3 separate regions of the Homo sapiens genome follow, and regions 1 and 3 are each linked to region 2. The links come from fine-mapping of genetic effects on gene expression. A gene starts in region 2. Each other region holds a variant in brackets. All regions are shown on one strand. Distances are between the middles of the regions.

The links.
Region 1: its variant is fine-mapped to the expression of KCTD3 in whole blood (TOPMed, PIP above 0.99).
Region 3: its variant is fine-mapped to the expression of KCTD3 in esophagus mucosa (GTEx, PIP 0.98).

The regions. Positions count from the first base shown.
Region 1 is chr1:215,495,105-215,503,315 of GRCh38, forward strand. No RefSeq gene overlaps it. Among named protein-coding and RNA genes, the nearest start is that of KCTD3, 68 kb to the right of the region's middle. The variant G/A (reference allele first, on the strand shown) is at 4,704.
Region 2 is chr1:215,562,834-215,571,044 of GRCh38, forward strand. It overlaps KCTD3 (potassium channel tetramerization domain containing 3), which reads left to right and starts at 4,471. Exons shown (of 18, transcript NM_016121.5): 1 at 4,471-4,935. The coding sequence starts at 4,853. LOC124904599 (a long non-coding RNA gene) reads right to left here and starts at 4,524. Exons shown (of 2, transcript XR_922599.2): 1 at 4,447-4,524; 2 at 3,594-4,301. RefSeq lists a silencer at 4,603-4,872 and an enhancer at 4,685-5,545.
Region 3 is chr1:215,586,558-215,594,768 of GRCh38, forward strand. KCTD3 (potassium channel tetramerization domain containing 3) reads left to right here. Exons shown (of 18, transcript NM_016121.5): 9 at 1-128. Among named protein-coding and RNA genes, the nearest start is that of KCTD3, 23 kb to the left of the region's middle. The variant C/G (reference allele first, on the strand shown) is at 4,497.

The DNA.
Region 1 (8,211 bases), 68 kb before region 2:
GTTGCAAATATAAATTAATTTCATAAAGTGTTTTTAATTTTGTAAAATTATGTAAATACTGTAACATAGTAAGGTGGCTATGCATGCACTTATATGAAAAGATACTTATGATTTAATATTTTTAAATTTTAAAAAGCTAGAAATCATCTATGTAGTAGAATCCCATTTCTTTGATAAATGTTTAAAATTCTACTATTACATGTTATTTCTGCATCCAAAAAGAGGATTCTACAAGGACACATACCAAAGTATTATCAGTGGTTCCCTCAGGATTGGTTATTGGAGGCTGTAAAAAAAGGACTGTTATGTTTTCATATAAATGTTCTGTATTTCATGGAATTTTAATAATTACATATTTTTCTTTACTATAAAACAAAACAATAAAGTAGAACTAATTAGAAGGATATGTAAATAATTGCCTTATTTTCAAACTGTAATTTAAATCACATGAAGAGTCAATTTTCAAGGTAATGTGACTTGAACTGTCATTAGCTAGTGATTGTTTCTATGAGTAAAAAAGTGAAATGAAACACTGACATAGAGGTTATAAGGTATAAGGTATATGTACGATTCAGAGAAATATGATAGCATAAACCAAATAATGGAGAATCTGAATTTATGCTTATTCTGCAGTCCAAAGTATTTTCTGAATCTTTCTTACAATCTCAACGCCCTTAGAAATGAACTAGAATAATCATATGGCAGCCCACCGCTCTCCTTCCCATTCAATCACTCTTTGTAGAAAACTAATCTACTTTCTTGCTTTGGGCAAATAAATAAGGACAAAAATTTAAAATTCTGTCTATAACCAAAAAGTCAAAGTTTGCATACATGAATTCTCTAATAAGTTATTATTACTTTTAGGCTTAAAAAAACAAAGAAATTTTAAGAGGCCATTTTCTCCTGCTAAAATCCAAATGATTTTTTTGCACTATTTATCAAATCTGGTAGTAGTTATTGGTATTCTTCCAGCAATAATTATGGAATGAATTAATATTGATATAATCTATATATTCATATTAAATCAGTACAGGAAGTCTAAATGATTATGGTAGCACTATAATGAAAAAATTAAATTAATTTCTCTTTCCATTTGCAGCTTTTGCCAAGGATCTATTTGACTGCCAGAATACAGCTTTTTTTTCCAACTCTTATTCTTGAAGGCTTAAAATTGAATATGCATGATATATAAACTAGAAATTTATACGAATATTATAAACAAAATAAAAATGTTGCCAATTATTTTATTTTCCCTTTCTCTAGGGTGAATTTATCAGAAATACTTTCTTTAAGAAGAATTATGAAGTAAGTTTTGTTCTAAGCCACTAACATTTTGTGCGCTTTAAAATTACCTTTTTTGGTAGAAGGATCAGAGAGCTTCATAAATACTTTTAGCCAGAAGGTAAAGCTGAGACAATAAAATGCAGGCAGTGAATGTCACATAGTGAGCCTTTTACAACACAGATTTGTTGATTTATTTATGTTGCATTTACAAGTTCTCTGAATGTGTTTATATATTTGTATATAGGTTGAATAGGCTACAACAATGAAACTTCTTTCTCAGGATTAGGAATGAAAGCTCCATTTATTATTGAGAAATGAAGTTTATGTGAGAAATAAAAGGTGAATCCATTTTAAAAATAAAAGCATATACTCAAAATATCACCTCAAACTAGTAGAAAAAGTAAATGGTAGTAACACATCTTTGGGAGAAAAAACACTGGTTAAAAGGCTGAGGGTTGATTGAATGCCAGAGAGCACTTCTCCCCTTCCACACAGTTGTCATGCTGTGACTATATATAAAAATGTCAGAAGTGTGTGTAGTGAATATTAGTCGTTTTGTTCCTTGATCGATAAAGAACGTATTCTTATGTTTTGAGAACTTTCCATCATATGAATCTTTGTTTTTCCCTGGATATAGAAATTATGAAGATCCTAGGGTTCCCGGGTGTAACAAATAAAAATACAGGGTACCAAGTTAAAGTTGAATTGTACAGAAACAGCAAATGATTTGTTAGTGTACGTCCCAAATAAGTGTGTCTCAAACAAGTATGTCAAATTTTACAAACATCGGGGCTCCTATTTTTTATTCTGCAATACTAGAAGACAAGATATTGGCTTTCCAGCCTCCTGTGAAAAGAGAATGTGACATGTGATGGGCATGTGACCTAGGATGACCGACCAATTAGATGCACTGCTTCGAACTTGGAATTTTTTTTTTTTTTTTTTTTTTTGAGACAAAGTCTCGCTCTGTTGCCCAGGCTGGAGTGCAGTGGCACGATCTCGGCTCACTGCAACCTCCGTCTCCCGGGTTCAAGCAATTCTCGTGCCTCTGCCTCCCGAGTAGCTAGGATTACAGGCACCCGCCACCACACCAGGCTAATTTTTGTATTTTTAGTAGAGACATGGTTTCACCATGTTGGCCAGGCTGGTCTCAAACGCCTGACCTCAGGTGATTGACCTGCCTCGGCCTCCCAAAGTGCTGGGATTACAGCCATGAGCCACCACGGCTGGCCCAAACTTGGAATCTTAAGAAGCAAGAACAGTGGAGACCCCGTGTAGTCAGTAGTAGCAGCAGCAGAGGCAGCAGCAGGTGTCCATGGCAACAATGACGATTCCGTCCCAGTAGTAACAACAATGAAAGCTGTTTAATCCCAGGTCCAGCAGCAGTAGAAGCAGCTGCAGGGACTTCACCACATTATTCTGTAGTATGATTTTGATGCTTGGTCTCTTTTCTTCCTGCCCCATTTCCATGTTCAATCCTTCAAAATTCTTGTTGGTTCTTTCACCTAGCCAACGTCCCTTAAGCAAATTCCTTTTCTGTTTAAATTGCCCAGAATTATGTTTTCATTAACGAATAATATTTGTACATATGTATGGGGTACATGTGGTATTTTATTGCATGCATAGAATGTGTAATGATCAGGCCAGAGTGCCTATCACCTCCAGTGTTTTCATTTCTATCTTTTGGGAAGATGTCAAGTCCTCTCTTTTAGCTACTTTGAAATATACAATACGATGTTGTTAGCTATAGTCACCTTACTCTGTTATCAAATATTAGAACTTACTCCTTCTCTCTAACTGTATGTTTGTGCTCACTAACCAACCTTTCTTCATCCCTCCTGCCTCTAACCACAAACGTTTCTCAGCCCCTGGTATCAATCGTTCTACTCTCTACCTCCATGAGATCAGCTTTTTTTAGCCAGGCATCCTCTTGAGGAGGATAGAATCTTCTCTTGTTTCTAAGAGCAGGAGAGCACAATATTAAGAGTATGGACTTTAGAGACATGTTCCCTGGATTTACAGCCCAGCTATACCGCTTACTACCCAATGACCTTAAACAAATTACGTACTTTTTATGCACATCAATAAAGCTTCTATTTCCATGTCTGTAAAATGAGCAGAGTAACAGTGTCTATCCGATAGGATTGCTTTGCATTTCAAGTTACTAAATATTTAGAGCAGAGACTGACAGATAGTAAGCACTATATATATGTTTTGAAAAACACAAAAACTAAAACTAAAAATCATCATTCACAAACCCAAGTTGTATGCAGAGGAAAAACCAACCATTTTTAATCAGACCATATTGATTATTTCCTTAAGGTGCTAGAAAAGGGTTTCAGAGGAGGCTTAATGTGTAATAAGCCGTTCCATTACTAATACAGGTTAGAGCAAGCAAAACATTCATATTAGTACTCAGACCTCTAGTATTACAATATTTTTCTGCCAGAACCCTGTTAAGGTAGTGAACTTCGTTAACCTTATTTGAAAGTGAAGTAAATGAGATTTGGAAGGGACTACAAAACTTGTATACCACAAAACATCACCCCACCAGCTTGTATGGTCTTACAGATTTAGTTATTATTGGACTGAGCAGGAAAGAGTGGAGGTGGAGTGATCAGATAGCTAAAATATCATTTGCAATTTCATAAAGGGGAGTTTATTTGACTAATTAATTTGTATTACAGGTCCAGGGGTAACATCATACTGGATTTGGAAGTTTTAGTGGGGTCAATGATGAGAAGCAAGGTGATGACAAACCTTGATGAAAAGAGAGCAAAGCATGAAGTGTGAGGTCAAGAGCAGAACACAATAGACTGAGATGTCGGGAGCCTGAATGGGAAGAGGAAAGAGGGTATGATACCTCCAACTGACAAATTATTTTTAATTGACTTATTTATGAAATACTTATTGTCTCCTCTATACCATATATAAATTTATCTAGAACCTGTTCTATGGCAAAAAATAATTCAGATTTATAATACATACCAGTAATGAAATAAATGTAAGCCTTGCCCTAGTGCTGATCCTGCTTATGTTTCCTTTAATCAATGTGCCACAAAAGCAGTAGACTCCAAAAACCCTTTGGCTTACACTAGAGTCAAAAACATTCTTCTCTTAGCAATTCATTTTGGAATTCTTTGAAGAAAGCCCAGTGGTATCTTTAGAAAATATGTTGATAAGCAGCTTTGCATGAGGGTGAGACCCTAAGAGGCATACTGGAGGGAGTGGAAACATAGATATTAAATTCCATGTATGTCTCTATTAAGCTTAGGACAGTGCCCAGGACACAAAAGAAGCAAATTATTCCACTGAGAATTTCGTAAACCGATTTTGCTCAAAGCTCTTTATTCTGTCAGTGGTTGAATTTCAGTAGGGAGTAAAGACGATTTATTTATAGTTTTTCAAGGCATCACCCC[G/A]CTAAATCCCCTAGAAGTCCCACTCCTGGAGAAAGGGTCTATAGTTGTATAGATTTATGCCGTGCTGTTATATTTTCTTTGAATAGTTTTGTTTATCTTCAAATTATTTGGCTTAGTTGGTACCCCTACTATGAGACTTCTACCAAAGAGTAAATAAAGCAATTTATTTACTTAAGATTAGTGGTTCAATATACCTCTTTAATGCAGAAGTTGATAAGTAATATGTCATTGAGGAAGGTAGTCATGGACAGACCTCTTATCAGCTTTCACATTTTCAGAGAAAAAAAAAAGATCTCAGTGAGACTAAAAGTTTGAAGATGAATTTGGATTCCAGAAACGAAGGAATTTTTGTGTCAGATCAAACTCGACAAGGATTATTTTGGTACCTATCACGTGCCAAACACAGTTTTAGAGTTTTTCAAGTGAGGTACTTTAATTTTCACAAAAATAGTGTGTGTTGCTTTCATTTCACAAAAGAAGAAGCAGGTTATAAAAATATATTCTTTGGGTGAACAAAAGTTCCATGAAGCTAGAATAGTCTTCTAATTTTAGAGATGTGGGTACCAAAATACAGAGAAGTTTTTACTTAAAATCACTCATCAAATTCAAATACGAAGTTGATTTCCACTCCATTTCTGTTCCTATTTCACCATATGACTTGCATTCCAAGCCAGAACTTGTTTATTGTGATTATATTAGCACACTACATTTCAGAAGGAAATCTCTCTTTAATCTGTAACATCGATTTAATTATGTGACATGTAGAGGTCACAAAATTAAAGGTAGGAACTTTAAGATATGTGTTTCATGAGACAGTGATTTTGTTCTTATCATTGAGTAAACAAAGAAACACATTTCAATGTGGGCCAAAGGTGTAATTGTCAAGGTACATTGTAAAGTCAATATCCTTCCTAACTAATCTAGTCTCAATCTCTCTAGATAGATAGGCCATACACAAAATTCTATACATATATAGGTATATGTGAGCACATATACATACCTATATATGTCTACACACATATATGTATATACACAAATATATACATACCTATATATGAATATCTGTGTACATACACATACCCATATATATACAGACACACACATCTAGTGGGTGTGTGTATGACATACGCAAAATGTATGTCCATGACATTATTGTCATGGTTTTTGTTTTTGGTTGGTTTTGTTATTTTCATATAATAGTTCTCAAAGAACATTCAATAAGCTTCTCCTGTATGAAAAGCACAGGGCTAGGTATTTTACACATAATTTTCTCATTTATAGTCCACAGCAACTCTACATGGTAAAGATTATCTTACAAATTTTGGACTCAGTAAGGTTAAGTGCTTTACTCAAGATCACAGGGTCATAAAATAAAGAGCTGATGTTACAAGTTGGGTGTTTCTCACTCCAAAGCCCGTGTTCTTTTTATCATATGATAAAACACTTCAAATGCGCAATTTTAACTTATTTTGGTATTTTGTGTTTTGTTTGGTATAGGTATTTTAAACATATTTTAAATATTTGGGACTTGGTATTTTATATTTTAACATATTTTGACTTATTGGTAGCTTATTCACCAATAATTTTGTACAAGTAAGCCATACTGCACATTCATACATAGCAAAGGTATTCACCAAAGGTCTATAAGGTACCAGATTCTGTTCTAAGTGCTGCTGATGGAGCAGTGCACAAGAAAGACAAATTTCTGTTTTTGTGCTCCTACATTCTAGTGGAAAGAGACAGAAAATGAACAGGTGGTGAACAGAATAAAGATAATACAACAAGTGGTAATATGTTTCATTAAAAAAATAAAGCAGAGTAAGGGACGGACAGTGACTGAAAAGGGTGCTGTTTATTTAACGTAGTCATACATGCCATTCCGCTAAAATGGTATTTGAGCAGAGACCTGAAGAAATCAAGAGTAAGCCAAGTAGGGGCACGTAGGGAAAGAGTGTTCCAAGCAGAAGAAACAGGAAGTATTAGTTTCCTAGGGCTGCCACAACAAAGTGCCATAAACTCACTGGCTTAAAATAATAGGTATTTATTCTCTCACAGTTTGGGAGGCAAGAAGTTCAAAATTAAGGTGTCAGCAGAGCCATGCCCTCTCTGAAGTCTGTAGGGGAAAATTCTTCCTTGCCTCTTCTGGCTTCTAGTGACTCTTGGAAGCATAGCCCCTATTTCTGCCTCTATCTTCGCATGGTTTTCTTTTTTCTAGTGTCTCTCTGTTTCCTTTCCTTGTCTCATAAGGATACACTCATAGAATTTAGGGCCCACTCAAAATCCAGGATGACTTCTACTCAAGATTGTTAATCAATTACACCTCCAAAGACCCTATTCCCAATGTGATCCTATGCTACAAAGTATAAAATCCCTGAGGTGGAAGCACATTGGAGGGGCAGCAAGGAGGCTTGTGTAGCCAGAGAAGAGTTTGGGGGTGGGTGGAGGAAGTGGTAGTTTACAAGATCAGACAAGTCCTCTGGGTTAGTGGGCAGGTAGATGGTGGAAGCCTGGCATGCTCTGTAAGAGCCTCGAACTTTAATCTAAGTAAGCTGAGTAGTCTGTAGAGAGGGAATTTTAGGACAGAGGAGTAACAGGAGTAATGAAATCCATAAAGGATCCTCACTCTGGCTGATTCTTAGAGAATGGAGTGGTTGGGAGAGGGAAGAAGCAGCAGAACCAAATAAGAGGCTTCTATGTTAAATTCAGTAAAATGTAACCATAATGTGATCAGAGTAGTGGTAGCAGAGCTGGTGACAGTTAGTCACATTCTGGGTCTACTTTGAGAATATGGCTGACAAGACCTGCTCCTGGATTAGATATGGAGTGTAAGATAATGAGAGATTCAAGGATGAAGCCAAGAGCCTTACCTGAAATTCTTCAGAATGGAGCTGGTTTTACTGAGATGGGAAGTTGTAGAGGAGGACCACATTTGGCCTTGGGGCCAAGAGTCTAAAGCATGTTTTGAAATGTTAAATTTGAGATGCTGATTGTGCATTTAAATACAGAAAAAGCATAGGCAGTAAAGGAATATTGAGGGCTAAGTTTCTGGACCAATAATTCTGCTTGGAAAAAAACTTTAAAATATTATAAAAGATGGATACTTTAAAAATCTTAAGAGTATTAAAAAGCTAACAAGATGCTAAACAATTAAAGTTGAAAATATAAATGAAAGCAGAAACCAGAAAGGAATTCAGAGAACTGAAGCTGCTTTTGTTGTCAAAGTTTTTACCAATCCAGAGGAATTTGAGCTTTGGCTGTGACAGCTGGCTTTTGATAGCTTCACAAGAAGTAATGCCCAATTGAGGTAGAAAATTTGATAGGAGATCTACCCCTTTAAAGCTGGTAGCCTAAGGGCTACACTAGGAAGGTGCAGATAAACCTGATCTACACCTCACCTCCAGTGAACTGCAAGGAGAGTTATCCTGGCACTCAACAGAGCAGGGGTTGGGGAGCAGATGGAGAGAAGTTATCACTAGTGAGTTGTAACCACAAATCTACCTTGCCCAGA
Region 2 (8,211 bases):
CACCAATTATGCTTTTTCTCCCACTTCTGCACTAGAACTGCCCTTACTTCCACCACACTATTTTTCTTCATGTCACTAAATCCAAAGTCAATTCTTAGTTCTTATCTTACTTGTCCTGTGATCTCATAGGACCCCATGCTCCCTTGGTTTTCCTCCCATCTGGCTGAAACTCCTTTCTAGTTTCCTTCACTGGAACTCCTCCCCAGTCTCTTAATATTGGATAGTCAAGGGCTCCATTCTGATTTCTATTTTTGTCTCATTCTACACTCACCTCCTTATGATTTTAGGCAGTCTCATGGCTCTAACAGCCATCTATATACTACTCATTCCCAAAGTTTTATTTCAGTAAAAATAAGAGAATTTTTAGCTTAGTTCTCTTTCTGAAACTTCTAGGTCCTTTATACAACAGCTTACTCAACATCTTACTTGGATATCTAATACAACGCTACTTTAAGTGTGGTTACTACTTTTAGTGTACTACTTTTAGTATAACCACACTTCAAGTAAATGCTACTTTAAGTGTGCTACTTAAGTGATAATAAACACTACTTTAAGTGTGGCCACTTAAGTGTGGTTCATGAATTGATGCCCATCCACAAACTGTGAATAGTCTGCAATTAAATAAGCACAAAAATGAGACTAAGAGGTTGGAAACTTTTTTTTTTTTTTCTGAGATGGACTCTTGCCTTGTCACCCAGGCTGGAGTGCAGTGCTGCAATCCCAGCTCACTGCAACCTCCATCTCCCAGGCTCAAGTGATTCTCCTGCCTCAGCCTCCCGAGTACTTGGGATTACAGGAGCGTGCCATCACGCCTGGCTAATTTTTGTGTTTTTAGTAGAGACAAGGTTTCACCATGTGGCTAGGCTGGTCTCGAACTCCTGACCTCAGGTGATCCGCACACTTTGGCATCCCAAGTGCTGGGATTATAGGTGTGAGCCACAGTGCCCGCCCGAGCTATATATATATAAAGGGGAGTTTACCCATCACAGAACTAATGGAATATACATATATATATTCCATATATATAATATATATTTATAAATACATATATTATAAAACATATATATATTCCATTAGTTCTGTCCCTCTAGAGAGTCCTGACTAAATCACCCCATAAATTGGAAATTGAACTAGTTCTTACCTGAGATAGTTTGACAAGGACTGGTCGAGTAGACATCACAAATTCAATATAGTCACTAAAGAAGGTAATATTATTTAAATAATGTTTTATTTACTTTGTATTGCCTAAATATTAAAATAACATAAACTTTAAAAAGCTGTCATGGGGACAACCTTGAATGTATCTACTCTATTTATTTACACATTCATACATACATACAGGTAGTACATGAAAGAAAACTCACTGTAAACAGTTAAACAATATGAAAGACCATAGGGGTAAAAGGTTTTGTCCATTCACCACTGCTACCTTCTCCTCACTGATTCTAATGATCTGTCTAGAGGTTATGTTTCTTCGTAGTTTAATATGTATTTTTATATAGAAATATAAGTGGATATACACATGATTTTAGTTTTTCCATTATTTAAATGAATGAGATTGTACTCATAATGTATTATTCTGTAATCTGATTATTTTCCCCACTAAATCATATACTTGGAGATCATTTCTGGTCAGTTCACATGAATTTGCCCCCAAAATAGTAATAGCTTCCAACATAATTTTAAAAATTATTCCCTTGTTGTTGAATATTCCATGTTTTTGCTATTATAACACTACTACCATGAATATGCACTTACTTCTTTGCATGTACCTTTGCCAATTGAGCAAAATGTGTATAGGATATATTTTTAGAAGAAAAGTGCTGGGTCTAGGGTATTTACATTTAAAATGCTGATATTCTTGAGGTGCCCTCCAGAAACTCTGTACCCATTCATAATTTAATCAGCAATGCATGAGTATGATCATTTCACACTCTCACTGTCCTTGAATTTTATCAAACCTCTCTTAATTTTTGCTAATCTCATGAGTAAAAATACATTTTTTGTTTTATTCATTTATTTATGTATTTATGTATTTATTTTGAGATGGAGTCTCGTTCTGTCGTCCCAGCTGGAGTGCAGTGGTGCGATCTCAGCTCACTGCAACCTCTGCCTCCCAGATTCAAGCGATTCTCCTGCCTCAGCCTCCCCAGTAGCTGGGACTACAGGCGCGCACCACCACGCCTGGCTAATTTTTGTATTTTTAGCAGAGACGGGGTTTCACCATATTGGCCAGGCTGGTCGCGAACCCCTGACCTCGTGATCCACCCACTTCGGCCTCCCGAAGTGCTGAGATTACAGGTGTGAGCCACTACACCCAGCTTTCTGTTGTTTTAATAAGCATTTTAGTGTTTTTATCAATTGGCTGTTGATATTCTTTCCATATTTTTCATTACTTGTTTTCTCAATTTATTTGTAGAATAATATATACATATATGATCAGATATTATATATTTTCAATCATTTGATATATGTTGCAAATATCTTTTCTCATTCTGCTATTTGTTTTTGTTAATGGTGTTCCAATTTATTCTTAAAAATTAAGTCACACCCTAACTTTAAGTTTTATGAGCAAGAAATGCCTCAGATATCTCTATATTGTTCTGGACATATCAAGAAGTCATGACCATTTGTCTTATAAAATACTGAGAACTTTTCCTTCTCTTGAAGAGATGTTCTCCTAATTTTTAAGTACAGTATAATAAAATGAACACGGTTTCATTTATTTCAGGAAAAATAAGAAGCCTTTCACAAATATATATATTTTTAAATTTATAAGGCCTTATTCTAACTCCAACTTGCCTCTTGGATTCAAAGGCTGTTAGCAACTATTCTTTCATATTCTTCCAAGGTTTGGACCTAAGGAAAATTAAATGGCCCTTTTACCACTTAAATCTTCGCTGCAAATTTTAAAGCAAAGTTTCAGATCCTGATAGAACCAGATATTATGTGTTAGGGCAAAGGCAGTTAACATTGTTTAAAGCAAGCTTGTCCAACCTGCAGCCCCATGGGTCGCATGCAGCCCAGGAAAGCTTTGAATGTGGCCCAACACAAATTCATAAACTTTCTTTCTTTCTTTCTTTCTTTTTTTCAGCTCATCAGTTATCGTTAGTGTTAGTGTATTTTATGTGTGGCCAAAGACAATTCATCTTCCAATGTGGCCCAGGAAAGCCAAAAGATTGGACACCCTGGTTTAGATTCCTAGTTGCTGCTGCTTTAATCTGAACTGTTACTCATCTTCCCTGTCTAAAGTGAAGATAATGAGGTACAATGCAGTGGTAAGGATGGTGAACAGTGGCCTTGAATTCAAGCTGCTTGCCTTGAAATTCCTGCCATCCCACTTGCTACCTATGTAATTTTGAGCAAGTTTTTTTGATCATTTTCATTCCCAAATTTCCTTTTTTAAAAATAATTATAACATTAGTTGTGACGAAGAAAGATGACAAAATATCTAAACCACCGGGTATATGATAAACACAAATTAGCTATTATTAAGCTTATCATCAACTGGGAGAAATAATACTTATCTTACATCCATATGTACTATTAACATCTTTCAAGTCGAATCTAGATAGAGCATATCACAACATTAGTATGCTTGCCAGAGGCTATTTTTTATTTTTTTGGTAAAAATTATGACAATGACAATAAAAACTTAACATCAGATACATTATCAGTTTGAATTATTATGATACAACTATGACAAAACAATTCATGTTAAGAATTTAGTACCACAAACTAATGACCTCTGAAACATAACGCACTATCTTTGTTAGTCTTTGTTAGCAGGGCATCAAGTATTATAGTATTCCGATTTAAAAAATATTTTAATAGCCACTAAGGTTTTGGGTTTGAATAGATACCGTTTAAAGCAAAAACAAATAAATAAACAAGCGCATAAAATTGTGTGTTTTCTGCGTGTGTCTAACATTAGTTGAGTGCTTACTATATTCCAGAAATAGGTTGCTGGGCATTACACAGTCTAGGGGTTTTTGTCCTTTGGTTTCCTTCCTGCTTAACAAACAAAAGCAAAAAACAAAACAAAAAAACTGCTTGGGAGATTGGGGATTAAATTGAAGAGGGTAAAGTAAGCAGTTTTCTGGGGTAAACGCTGTAAGGTTTTAAAATCTCCAAATGTTCCCTGCATTTGCACTGTCTACATTTAGGCATCAACTTTTACTACCTCTAGGATTAGTTTTTCCTTTCCCAATCCATGTTGACAAAGTGGGTCATAAAGATCCGTAGATCGTTTGCCCAGATCTGCCCTCAATCTGCGAATCAGCTTCCTCGTTTTAGAAAATCTGAAATGTAAAAGGGAAAGGGGCTGGGATCGCGTGGGGAGGAGGAACGAAATGGAATCCCGCGTGGGCAGGCGGCTGGCCAGGAGCACATTCCCCTAGCCTCCCTACGCGCCAGCCCCGCGGCGTTGGGAAGCTCCTCCCTGACCTTTCCTTCCTCCTCCTCCTCCTCATTCTAGGCGGCAGTGGCGGGCGAAGCGTGAGCGCTGCGGTATTTTGTCCCGAACGGTGACCCCTCCTCCCAGGCAGGCTGCGGCGGCGTCGGTGGCAGCGGAGCACGGAGAAGAGGCCCGGGCGGCCCGGCGGCCTGGAGGCCGCGAAAGGTGGAGGCCGGGCCGCCCTTGTGCACCGCAGGATTGACCCGGGAAGGGGCAGAAGCTAGCGAGCCCCGCCCGGCCGCCGGGAAGGTGGGGGAAGCCCCGTGCACCCCCCGCCCTCCGGCCGCCGCCGCCCCGCTGGCCCTGCAGCCGTCGCCGCTGCCTCGGGCTACAGCCCCGGGCTCGGCGGTCCCGGCTGGGGAAGGAGGGCGGCGAGCGCGTCCGGAGCCGCCGGAGATGGCGGGAGGGCACTGCGGCAGCTTCCCCGCGGCGGCGGCCGGCAGCGGCGAGATCGTCCAACTGAACGTAGGGGGGACCAGGTGAGTCGGCGGGTAGCGGGCTTGCAGCGGGGATGCCTTGGCGGCCTCCTCCTTTGGTGTCGACGGGGACCGAGAGTCGCAGGAACGAGGGCGAGCGTGGGAGGCCAAGCCTGGAGGGGAACGTGGGGGCCTCCAGGCGGCAAGAACGTCGGGCGGATTTTGGAGCTGGTGAAGCATCTGCTCTGGGAAGGGAGAGGCAGAAGGGACGCTTGGAATTACCGAGGACCAGGCCCATGTGGCAGAGTAGCTGCTGTCCTAGAATGCCAACCTTTGCCCCTCCCAACAGGCAAGGAGAACCATTACACAGCCTTCCTTACCTCATCTCAGATTAGAGTGTATTTGAGGACTTTATTTAGTAGAAACCTGGCTTTGTGGTTTGGATGTTGGAGATGAACTTGCTTTCCTTTCTCTTTGGTCAACGAGGTGTCGGTTTTCTTAGGGAAGAGTGCGGTGTTCTTTTCCGCGCCTAATTAGGGGATTTGTAATTTGAAAGATTTCTGTGATGGGAGTGCAGTAGGTTTGCAGTACCTAGTTATTTATTTTCAGAATTTCTTGGTGCATGGGCTTGAAGGATCTGTTCAACTTCTAGGACAGTGTGTCCAGAAACTGCAGTTTGAACATTTGCTTTTAGGAAGCTCTGGATATTGGCACGGTGTGACGCCCTTGGAGTAAACAGACTGAATGCTCTTCTCTGTCTGTTCTCTTTCTGGCCTTCCGCCCCCCCCCCCCCCCGCCCCTTCTGTGCCTGTTATTAAGTTTGTTGGGGGAAAAAATCGTAGTTTTTGTGGATTTCCTATAACTTATGAGTCACTCCTCTCAGAAAAGGGAGTTTGCCAGCTGTTTGAAAGAAGGATTAGTTGAGTTTTAGGCTTGGTAAGGAGATAAACAAGGAAATGCTCTGGAATACAGTTAATTTTTCTGTGCTTGAGAATATGATTTTCAACCAGCATTTTAAAAGTATTTTAATGTCTTAGAACCATAGTGATAAAAAATGTCTACTGTAGTGCTTTAATCCTAAACATTTGATAGCTTTCTAGAATTTAACACAGAAAACCATGGTACTTCGTTCTTAGGGTTTTTCCTCTTCCCCCAAATCAAAACTTAGATAATTTACAACGTTATTGCAGTTGTATAGAAACCAGTCTTATGGAGATTTATGTCTCCTAATGTAAGAAATGGAGTTTTTCCTAAAATCACGTTAAAATATTGGAAGTTTGGTAACTTGTGGAATACCCCTAAAGAGGAGGCCTGCAATGTGTGTTGATTATACTGAAGAGTAGCAGTATAATCATTTACAATCCCTACACTGGTTTCTACTTGCTATTGATAGTTAATGTATTTCTTTTCTTTAATTTTCTTTTTTTTTTTTTTTGAGACGGAGTCTTGCTCTGTCGCCTGGCTGGAGTGCAGTGGCGCGATCTCGGCTCACTGCAGCCTCTGCCTCCCAGTTTCAAGCGATTCTCCTGCCTCAGCATCCCGAGTAGCTGGGTCACAGGCGCGCGCCACCACGCCCGGGTAATTTTTGCATTTTTAGTAGAGACGAGGTTTAACTACGTTGACCAGGATGGTCTTGATCTCCTGACCTCGTGATGCTCCCGCCTCGGCTTCCCAAAGTGCTGGAATTACAGGCGTGAGCCACCGCGCCTGGCCGATAGTTAATATATTTCTATTCAGACATTCACAAGGACATACAGTATTATTGTAAAAATTAAGCAGTATTGTTATTTACTATGTGGATGGCTTAATACTGAGTGAACTCTTATTAGAGACTGCAGAATTCATTTAAAAGTTTTAACTCATAAGGCAGTTATCTTGGCACTGTAACTTTTTTTTTTTTTTTTTTTTGAGACAGAGTCTCGCTCTGTCATCCAGGCTGGAGTGCAGTGGTGCGATCTCGGCTCACTGCAAGCTCCGCCTCCCAGGTTCGCGCCATTCTCCTGTCTCAGCCTGGCACTGTGACATTTTATCTTGTGTTTACATTATTTATGAAACTTGAGCTTATCAGGTTCTAATTTTTTCTAAGTGATATTAGCAAAGATACAAAATAGTACATATATTACTGGTTTGAACAGTTTACAAGACATGAAATTGTTAGTGGGAATGGAAACATTAAAAAACTTCAGAAAATTGTTAAGATAAAATGGCTTATAAAATAAGTAGTAATGGTATGGCCCGTAGAAAACAACATCCGACTCCATATTCTAAGAATATTTTCTAGATTTGCTTTGAATCCTACACTCGTGCAGCATTTTAGAGCTAGATGAGATCTAGAAGTCACCTGTATCTTGTACAAAACACAGTGTAACATAGTCACTTAAGCCACTGTAAGAGAAAAATCCTGATATGATTGCCACTGAAGTTCAGGAACTGCTGTGGCATAGAATTGAAGTTCTGAAGTGATAGAGTAAAACTCAAAAGGAGAGTTTGTTGGGAGCAGAGAAGCATATGCTATCGGTAAGGTCTTTTTTTTTTTTTCCCTCAGGAGAATAGACATGAAAATGGATATACTCAAAGGAATTATAGAAATGACTAATTTTTATGGTTTAATACTTTGTGGGTGATTCAGAAAGTAGAGTAGATGAAGTTTCATTTAGAATTGTTAGTATTCGTTATTTACAAAAAGTAATGAAGTGAATTCACTATGACTGAATTTATGATTAATTCTGTTATGGGCAAGTGTGATTTTGGGCCTCATGCAAGAGGGCTGGGACTAGCCATTGAGGACTCCTGGACAAAGAGCTTTTGAGTCAGGTATATGTTTCCAATTCCCAGGCTTTATCTCTAACTAGCCTAGCAACCTTGGACAAATATTTTGATACTTAGTCTATTAAAATGTAAAGTGACAGACAGTAGTACCAATCTTATCAGATTGTTATAGGAATTTGAAGTAATAAATGTGAAATGCAAGGGTTAGTGGCATTATCAGTACTTACAGTGCAGAATAAATAACTAGTTAGATTGCTACCAAGTTAATTTAGTAGGAGGCAAGTTGCATGAAGTATAACTGTGGGTATGCAAATTTCTTTAGTCCTTTGCTGAAACCAGATTGTACATGACTCTGTTCTTGGGACACTATGGGTATGGGATAAAAAACAAATCAAAACAGAAAAGGCTTTCAAATGATTATGCTCATCATGTGTAATTTTAAGTGTGTTAGTTTTCATGAAGTTATATTCGAGACTGGTTTTGGGGCCAGAAGTTTAAAAAAAAATTGGTGGGGATGAGGGTCTAATTCCTTTGCCCAGAAATTCCAGGTTACTAACCTTTCCCCAAAAT
Region 3 (8,211 bases), 24 kb after region 2:
ACGAGTAGCTTTAAATGCAAAGGTGGTTGGAGGGCCACATGGAGACAAAGACAAAATGGTTGCTGTTGCCTCAGAGAGTAGCATCATCTTGTGGAGTGTTCAGGATGGGGGAAGTGGAAGTGAAATTGGTAGGAAGAATCTTGTTTATGTTGCAATTTGATGATATTAATATTTTGAAGTTTATAAAAGAGATTGACACTGAATATGAAAATTAACCTGGACTGTCAGTTAGCTAGAGCTGTCACAGTATTTAATGTGGGAGGAATGATCTGATAATGAAGGAAAAATGATGTTTTAGAAAAGACATGGGGAACATCTTTTCACCACTTTAAGTGAAACCTGGCTGCTCTATGAAAATATTGCTTTTCCTGAATCCCACTTAGTGGTGGATGTTTTCACTGTTTTCTCTCCACCCCTCTCAAACTACTGAACCTGAATGTGGGGTAAGTCACTTTCTTGCTCCTCATTGTTGCTTCTAGACCAGACATTCCCAAACTTTTTGGTTTCAGAACCCCTTAATCCTCTTAAAAAGTTACTCAGGACCTGAAAGAATGTAGGTTATTTTCTTTTTTTTCCTTTTTTTTTTTTTTGAGACTGAGTCTCGCTCTGTCGCCCAGGCTGTAGTGCAATGGCATGATCTCAGCTCACTGCAACCTCTGCCTCCTGGGCTCAAGCAATTCTCCTGCCTCAGCCTCCCAAGTAGCTGGGACTACAGGCACATGCCACCACGTCCAGCTAATTTTTTTGTGTTTTTAATAGAGATGGGTTTCACCATGTTAGCCAGGATGGTCTCGATCTCCTGATCTTGTGATCCGCCCACCTCGGCCTCCCAAAGTGCTGGAATTACAGGCGTGAGCCACCATGCCCGGCCTTTCTGTAGGTTATTTTCTATCAGTATTTACTATATTAGAAATTAAAATGGAAATTTTTATAAATGTTAATATAGTTATAATAATCCATTGCATAACTTAAGTAACATTTTTAATGAGAACCTCATTTTCCAAAAATGTGTGAGAAGAATGGCATTGGTTTACAGTTTTGTAAATCTCTTTTTGAACTGTGATATCTATTTCTGCATTCAATCTGCTGTGATACATTGTTTTGATTGAAGTATATGAAGAAAACTTGATCTTACACAGATATGTAGTTGGAAAAAACTTTTTTCAGTCTTTTCAGAAAATTGTGCATAGTCTTCTTTGATTCTTTATCAAAACTCTAAAATCATATCAGTGAACTTTTCATATTCTGTTAAATTAAAATCCATCAGACTATTTTGTACTTTGAGTGGATCTTTTATCATACATGCTTTTATAAGATGTTGGGCATTTGGAAATTGTTGGTTTGCTGAGTTATGTAGATCTACCAAATGTTGATACCTTTCATTGTATAATATGAAAAAAAATTGCATTCATTGGTATCCCTGCTGACTACGTGTGAGGGAGTTGTCACACTCACTGTGGCAGATAAAAGTTTTCCAAACTGCAGATTTTCACTTGAAACGTTGAATTTTTATCATTGGCAACAAATAACATCAGTGGTTTTCCTTTAGATAACAGGCTTACTTTGTTTATTTTTTGAGGATAGTTCTGCCAAACACCCAATTCTGAATAACCATAGTCATCTCAAATTAAAATGGTACTTAATGAACAGAGCAGCTCCTGTAGCTCTTTGCTCCAGCATTTGTGAAGGTGCTTTTCCTTGACATAGCCATAGTACTTAGTCATACAGAATATTAAGATATATAGTTGAAATTAAGTTTTTATCAGTACAAATTTTTACTGCTTCATCAAGGACATTCTTTAGTTACTAAGACCATTACATTCTCTGCCACAGACTTTCGGGAACATAAAAGGCCAAATCTTTAATTTAATCTTTAAATCTTTGATTTGGCCTTTTATGTTCTTGAAAGTCTATGGCAGAGAAGAATGCAATGGTCACTAGTAAAGTTTAGTGCCACTGTCCTGGTTTGTGCTAAGTAAGGTACCTGCTGTTTTTACCAAACGTTGCTTTGCATCATCAGTGTAAATGTCAACACAGATGTTCTAGAATAAGCCATGAAATTCATATAAGTTTTCAACACTTTGACTATTTCAGCACTTCCTGTGTTTGTAGCTATGCATTCACATAAAGGATTTTTAATGATCAGTTGGAGCTAATACCAGATGGGTACAAGTAAAACACCAGGTCTAGCTAATACCAGCTGGATACAAGTAAAATACCAGGTCCAGCCACATCTATATATTCATCTGTTTGCAAGGCAAAAATACAATTCTACAGACAAGAGATTGACTCTCTGCCAAATCTTTAGATTGAAGAGTTACTGTATTATTGAAAAGTTACCATGTTATTTCTTCATGGACTTTTCATCTAGCAGGCATTCAGCATTGTCATCTGTTCAAGGCTTTATTAGTCTCTCAGCAATTGGGTATACTTCTCTAGCCACTGTGATGTCGTAACTTACCTTTGAGATACTTCATTAGATTTTTCATTTCTAGTTTGAAGGTCTATACCAAACAATTTCTGGATTAAATGAGTTTTTTACATCTTTATTTAAAATACTTAATTTCTTTTTCTTCTTTTCTTTCCTTTTTTTTCTGAGACAGGGTCTTGCTCTGTCACACAGGCTGGAGTGCAGTGATGTGATCCTAGCTCACTGCATCCTCAACCTCCTGGGCCCAGGCACTCAAGCAGTCCCCCCACCTCAGCCTCCTTAGTAGCTAGAACTACAGGCAGGCACCACCACGCCTGGCTATTATTTTTTAATCACTGTATAGATAGGGTCTCACTATGTTGCCCAGGTCTTGAATTCCTAAGCTTTAGTGATCCTGCTACCTTGGCTTTCCAAAGTGCTGGGATTACAGGCATGAGTCGCTGTGCCTGGCCAATTTCTTTTTGTTTAAACTCTTGGGTATTCAGTCTCAGTGAACCTACAACCGATAGATACTATGCAAAAATGTTTTGCTACATAAAGCACAATAAGGTTAAGTTATTAAGATCTATAAAGTTGAGGGAAGATTCCAGATTCCCAGAAGGAAAGAAGGTGTCCAACATAAACTGCATTGTTTATGCAGTTAGGCTTTTTGTCACCATAGATTAGGTTTCCTTTATCTAGAATTTCATGAGTAGAATTATATAGTATTTATTCTTTTGTGCCTGGCTTTTTATTAAGCATAATGCTTTTGAAATTCATCCATGTTGTTGCATGTATCAGTTGTCTGTTCCTTTTTATTGCTGAGTAGTATTCCATTGAAATAATACGGCAGAATTTGTTTATCCATTCACCCGTTGATAGACATTTGGCTTATTTCCAATTTGGAGATATTATGAATAAAGCTGCAGTTAACATTCAAGTAGAAGTCTTTCTGTGGACATTTACTTTCTTAAGGTAAATATATAGGAGTGGAATTTCTTAGTCATATGGAAAGTGTATGTTTAAGGTTAAGAAAAACTGCCAAACTGTTTTCCAAAAGTACCTTTTTACATTTTTACTTGCAGTGTGTGAGAGTCCCAGGTTCTCCACATCCTAATCAACACTTTGTATTGTCAGTCTTTTTAATTTGAGCCATTATTGTGGATTTTAATGGTTCAGTGATTTTAATTGTGGCTTTAACTGCATTTTTCTGATGATTAATAATATTAAGCATCGTTTCCTGTACTTAATGACCGTTTGTATATTTTCTTTTGAGAAGTGTCTCTGTAAATCATTTGCCCTTTTTAATGAGGTTGTCATCCTGTTACTTATTTGTAAATGTTTTTTACATATTCTAGATTTGTGTTTCACAACCAAGGAAATCTTATCCACCAAAGGATATTTGAAAATGTCTAGAGACATTTTTGGTTGACACAGTTGAGGGAGGCCTGTACCTGTCTCCCTTCCTCTTTTCTCCATCTCTCCCTTGCTCGCTCCCTCTTCCTCCTTTTGAGCTTTCTAGATCACTTTATATTAACCTGGGGTTGTGGGAGCCCTGATTTTTTATTTCATTTTTTTCTCCATTCTTCAGTTTAGATATCTTTTATTGATCTACCTTTAATGTCTTTTATACTTCTACAGTATTCAATCTGCAGTTAAGTTCATCTAGTGAATTTTCATCTGAAATGTTGGACTTTTTAGCTCTAGTATTACTTTTTGATTCCATTTTCTAGTTTGTTTCTTCTGCTAAGATTTCTTGTCTTTTTGTTCATTATGTTCAGCTGTTTAATTTGTTAAAGTATTTGTCTGCTAATATCAATATCTGGTTACCATGTTTTTATTTTGGGTCACATTTTCCTGTTTCACATGTCTAGAGAGTTTTGATTATGTGCTGTACTTGTGTGTGATACATTTTGTAGGGTTATGAATTATGTTACCTTTCTTTAAAAGTTATGAGCTTTGTTCTGGCAGGCAATTAAATTACTAAAGGATCTTGAACCTGTTAGGCTTGTTTCAGTACTTTGTTAGGAGTAGGTATCCTCTTCTAGCTTTATTTGTAATTTTAGGGCAGGGCTCCTTTTCAAGG[C/G]TGTAGTTCTTATTTTTAAGATGTTGCTTTTCTGGAATCTTATTTAACTGAATGCCAGAGGGGCTCAGCAAGAACTCTCTACTTTTATTGAGTTGGAACTACTCCATCTACCCACATATGACCTCTGATATCTGATATCTCCAGTTACCTTAGTCCTAAAGCAGCTATCTCCCGTTACCTCTTAGTCCTAAAGCAGCCTTTCTTTCTTTTCTTTCTCTCTCTCTCCTTCCTTCTTTCCTTCCTTCCTTCCTTCCTTCCTTCCTTCCTTCCTTCCTTCCTTCCTTCCTTCCTTCTCTCTTTCTCTCTTTCTTCTCTTTCTTTCTTAGACAGAATCTCACTCTGTCTCCAGGCTGGAGTGCAGTGGCGTGATCATGGCTGACTGCAACCTCCGCCTCCCAGGTTCAAGGGATTCTCCTGCCTCAGCCTCTCGAGTAGCTGGGACTACAGGCACATGCCACCACGCCCAGCTAATTTCTGTATTTTTAGTAGAGACAGGTTTCACCATCTTGACCAAGATAGTCTCGATCTCTTGACCTCGTAATCCGCCCGCCTCAGCCTCCGAAGTGCTGGGATTACAGGCGTGAGCCACCGCGCCCGGCCAGCAGCCTTTCTTTCCTTGAGGATTCTTGCCCTGCCCAGGTGCAGTTAGGCCTTAGCCAAGGTCTTAGGGAAACGCTTATGCAACTTTTATGCCACCCCTCTGGCACAGTTCCCTTCCTTCTTGTACTGTATCTACTAACTCTAGCCTCAAGTTCTTCGCCTCCTCAGTTCAGGGAAATCATCTGTCTTTATTTGGTATATTAGTCCGTTTTCACACTGCTGATAAAGACATACTCAAAACTGGGAAATTCACAAAAGAAAGAGGTTTAATTGGACTTACAGTTCCACATGGCTGGGGAGGCCTCACAATCATGGCAGAAGGCAAGGAGGAGCAAGTCACATCTTATGTGGATGGCAGCAGGCAAAGAGAGCTTGTGCAGAGAAACTCCTGTTTTTAAAACCAGATCTTGTGAGACAATCCATTCCCTATCACAAGAACGACAAAGGAAAGACCTGTCCCCATGATTCAGTCATTTCCCATGGGGTTCCTCTCACAACACCTGGGAACTACAGGAGCTACAAGATGAGATTTGGGTGGGGCACAGAACCAAACTGTATCACTTAGGTCTCACCTTTCTATGCTGTGATAGAAAGTACTCTTATGCAGCAAGCCAGGGGGAATGTGGGGCTTGTCAGTGTGTTTCTGTCTCTCAGGTCCTCTGCTGCCTGTTGTCCAATACCTAAAAACAGTTGTTTCATATATTTTGTCCATTTTTTTTTTTGTTGTTACTGCTGTTTTAAAGTGGAGAATAATCGGGTGCCATTTATTCTATCGTGATCGACAGCTTAAGTCCTCCCAAACAACTTTAAGAAAAGAAAATTTAACATAAAAAATTTTGAAATTATAATACACTGGTAATTAAACAGAAGGTAAATCAGTTGTGATTTCTTTTTCCTTTTTCAAGTAGCTATTTGTAACATACCAATAAGTGAAAGAAATTTTATTACTTGCTTGGTGTTCAAAGGCTAATGTGATAGGTAGCTATGTTATGAGCTGGTACAATAGTAATTTGTTCATGCCCTGTAAAAGGAGCCATTTGTTGTTAACAAATATTCTTCAGAACATGACAACACTATCCAAAGAAAATTGTTAGGGCTGGTATATCCATGATAAAGCTCTCCCAGAGGCTGAACTCCCTTCATTATAACTTAGATAAGACGAGAGTTACTGGGTTTCTGCTATAAGCAATATTTTACCAAGAGGGCCCCTTAAGACAGGAACTGGTCATTACTTCTGTTGTCTTCCCTGTCACTGGTGCTCAGGATTGTTTAGCCTAAGCAGGAGTGACACTTTAAATTTCGTGAGACCATTCAGAGTGTCTTTGTTGATTTCCTAGAACCTCATCCTCCTCTGGAGTAATCGATGTTAGTTGGTTTTCCTGTTTTCATTTCTGCCTTTCACATAGCCCATAATACTGAATATAGTTGGCTTCACATGTTCTAAAAAGACATGTTCACATTGTTTGTTATCATCATTAAAGTACTATTATGTAGAATCCCTAAAATTGTATACAACGTAAAATAATGACTTTATGCTTTGAAGTGGCAGGTTCATTTCTTAACCAATTCTGGGCAACGGACTTAGCTTTGTGTGTGTGTGTTGTACTTTATTTTGTTCTAGTTTTTTGGGCTGAGATAATGTGTTTCATGCACATGCTTGTATAAATATGGATTTTATACATATAATTAAAAATGTTTATATAGAAGATACTTCTAACAATACTTAGCAGGTTTTTTGTTTTGGTTTCTTTTTGTCATGTATCGTCTTCTTGCTAGATGCCTTGCTTTTACAAGACTGATTAAAAGTTTTCAAGGTGTTGTTTGTCACTGGTCTTGAGTATAGTACAGTTCTGAACAAAAAGAGAATACCTAGCACCAGTATAAGATTCAAAAGAAATCAGTAATCTTTCTGGCTTATGCTTTTAAAGCATGTTATATTTGCATTTAGTTGCTTTGTTTTTCCCATGAGTTCTTCAAGGTTTCATGCATTTTTTTTCTCAGCTAAATGCTGACGAAGTTGTCTGTATTGGCACAGGTACTTTTTAAAAATAAACTGATACTTGAAGCAGCCAAAGATCTACATAAAACAGTATTGTAGAGGTGAGACTTATTTCCCAGCATTATTAGATAAAAATATATTTCCCATAAAGTGTTTTTCAAATGATTAAGATAATGCTATTTAAGTGCTAGAATTGGAATACAACTTTTTTTTTTTTTTTTTTTTTGAGACAGTGTCTTGCTCTGTCACCCAGGCTGGAGTGCAGTGGTATGGTCTCGGCTCACTGTAACCTCTGCCTGTGGGTTTAAGCAATTCTCCTGCCACAGCCTCCCCAGTAGCTGGGATTACAGGCGTGTGCTACCATACCCAGCTAATTTTTGTATTTTTAGTAGAGATGGGGTTTCAGTGTGTTGCCCAGGCTGGTCTTGAACTCCTGACCTCAAGTGATCCACCCGCCCTGGCCTCCCAAAGTGCTGGGATTGCAGGCATGAGCCATCATGCCCGGCCGATTATAACATTTTTAAGCTCAAGTGATCATTGAAACATTTAGCTTAGACCCTATTTCGTAGTTGAGATAAGAACCAAAAAAGTGGCAAACAAAGGTACTCTGAGAGCCAGGATCCCAACCCTGGTTCTCCTGACTCCTAGTGCAGTACTCTGCTAAAGAGAGACAAGTGTATAAGGCCAATATGCCGCACCAAGGTGAGCCTAGAATTCTCTGCTTAGGCATTGCTGGGTCTTTTGCTACTGATGTGTGATAGGTGCTGCTTACAACCTCTCTCACCTACACTTACTCTTCTGTTTGCTCTGATTCCCTGAGCTTGCCCATATTCAGTCTCCCAATTTGATGGACTCCTATTAACCTTTAAAAACTCCAACTCAGATGGCTTCTTTTCTAAGATATATTTTCAACCCCCTTTCCATACCCTTTTTACCCCATAGATACTATTATACCCTGTGCATCCTTCTGTTATTATTGTATCAAATTATAATTGGTTGCAGTTTTTTCTCTACTAAAGTGTAAGTTCTTAGTAATGTCTTGTCTTCTCGTGTTTTTTAATCCTAAAGCCTGATATAGTGTCTTTTGAATTAATTAAATGGAGATTGCAGTGCTGG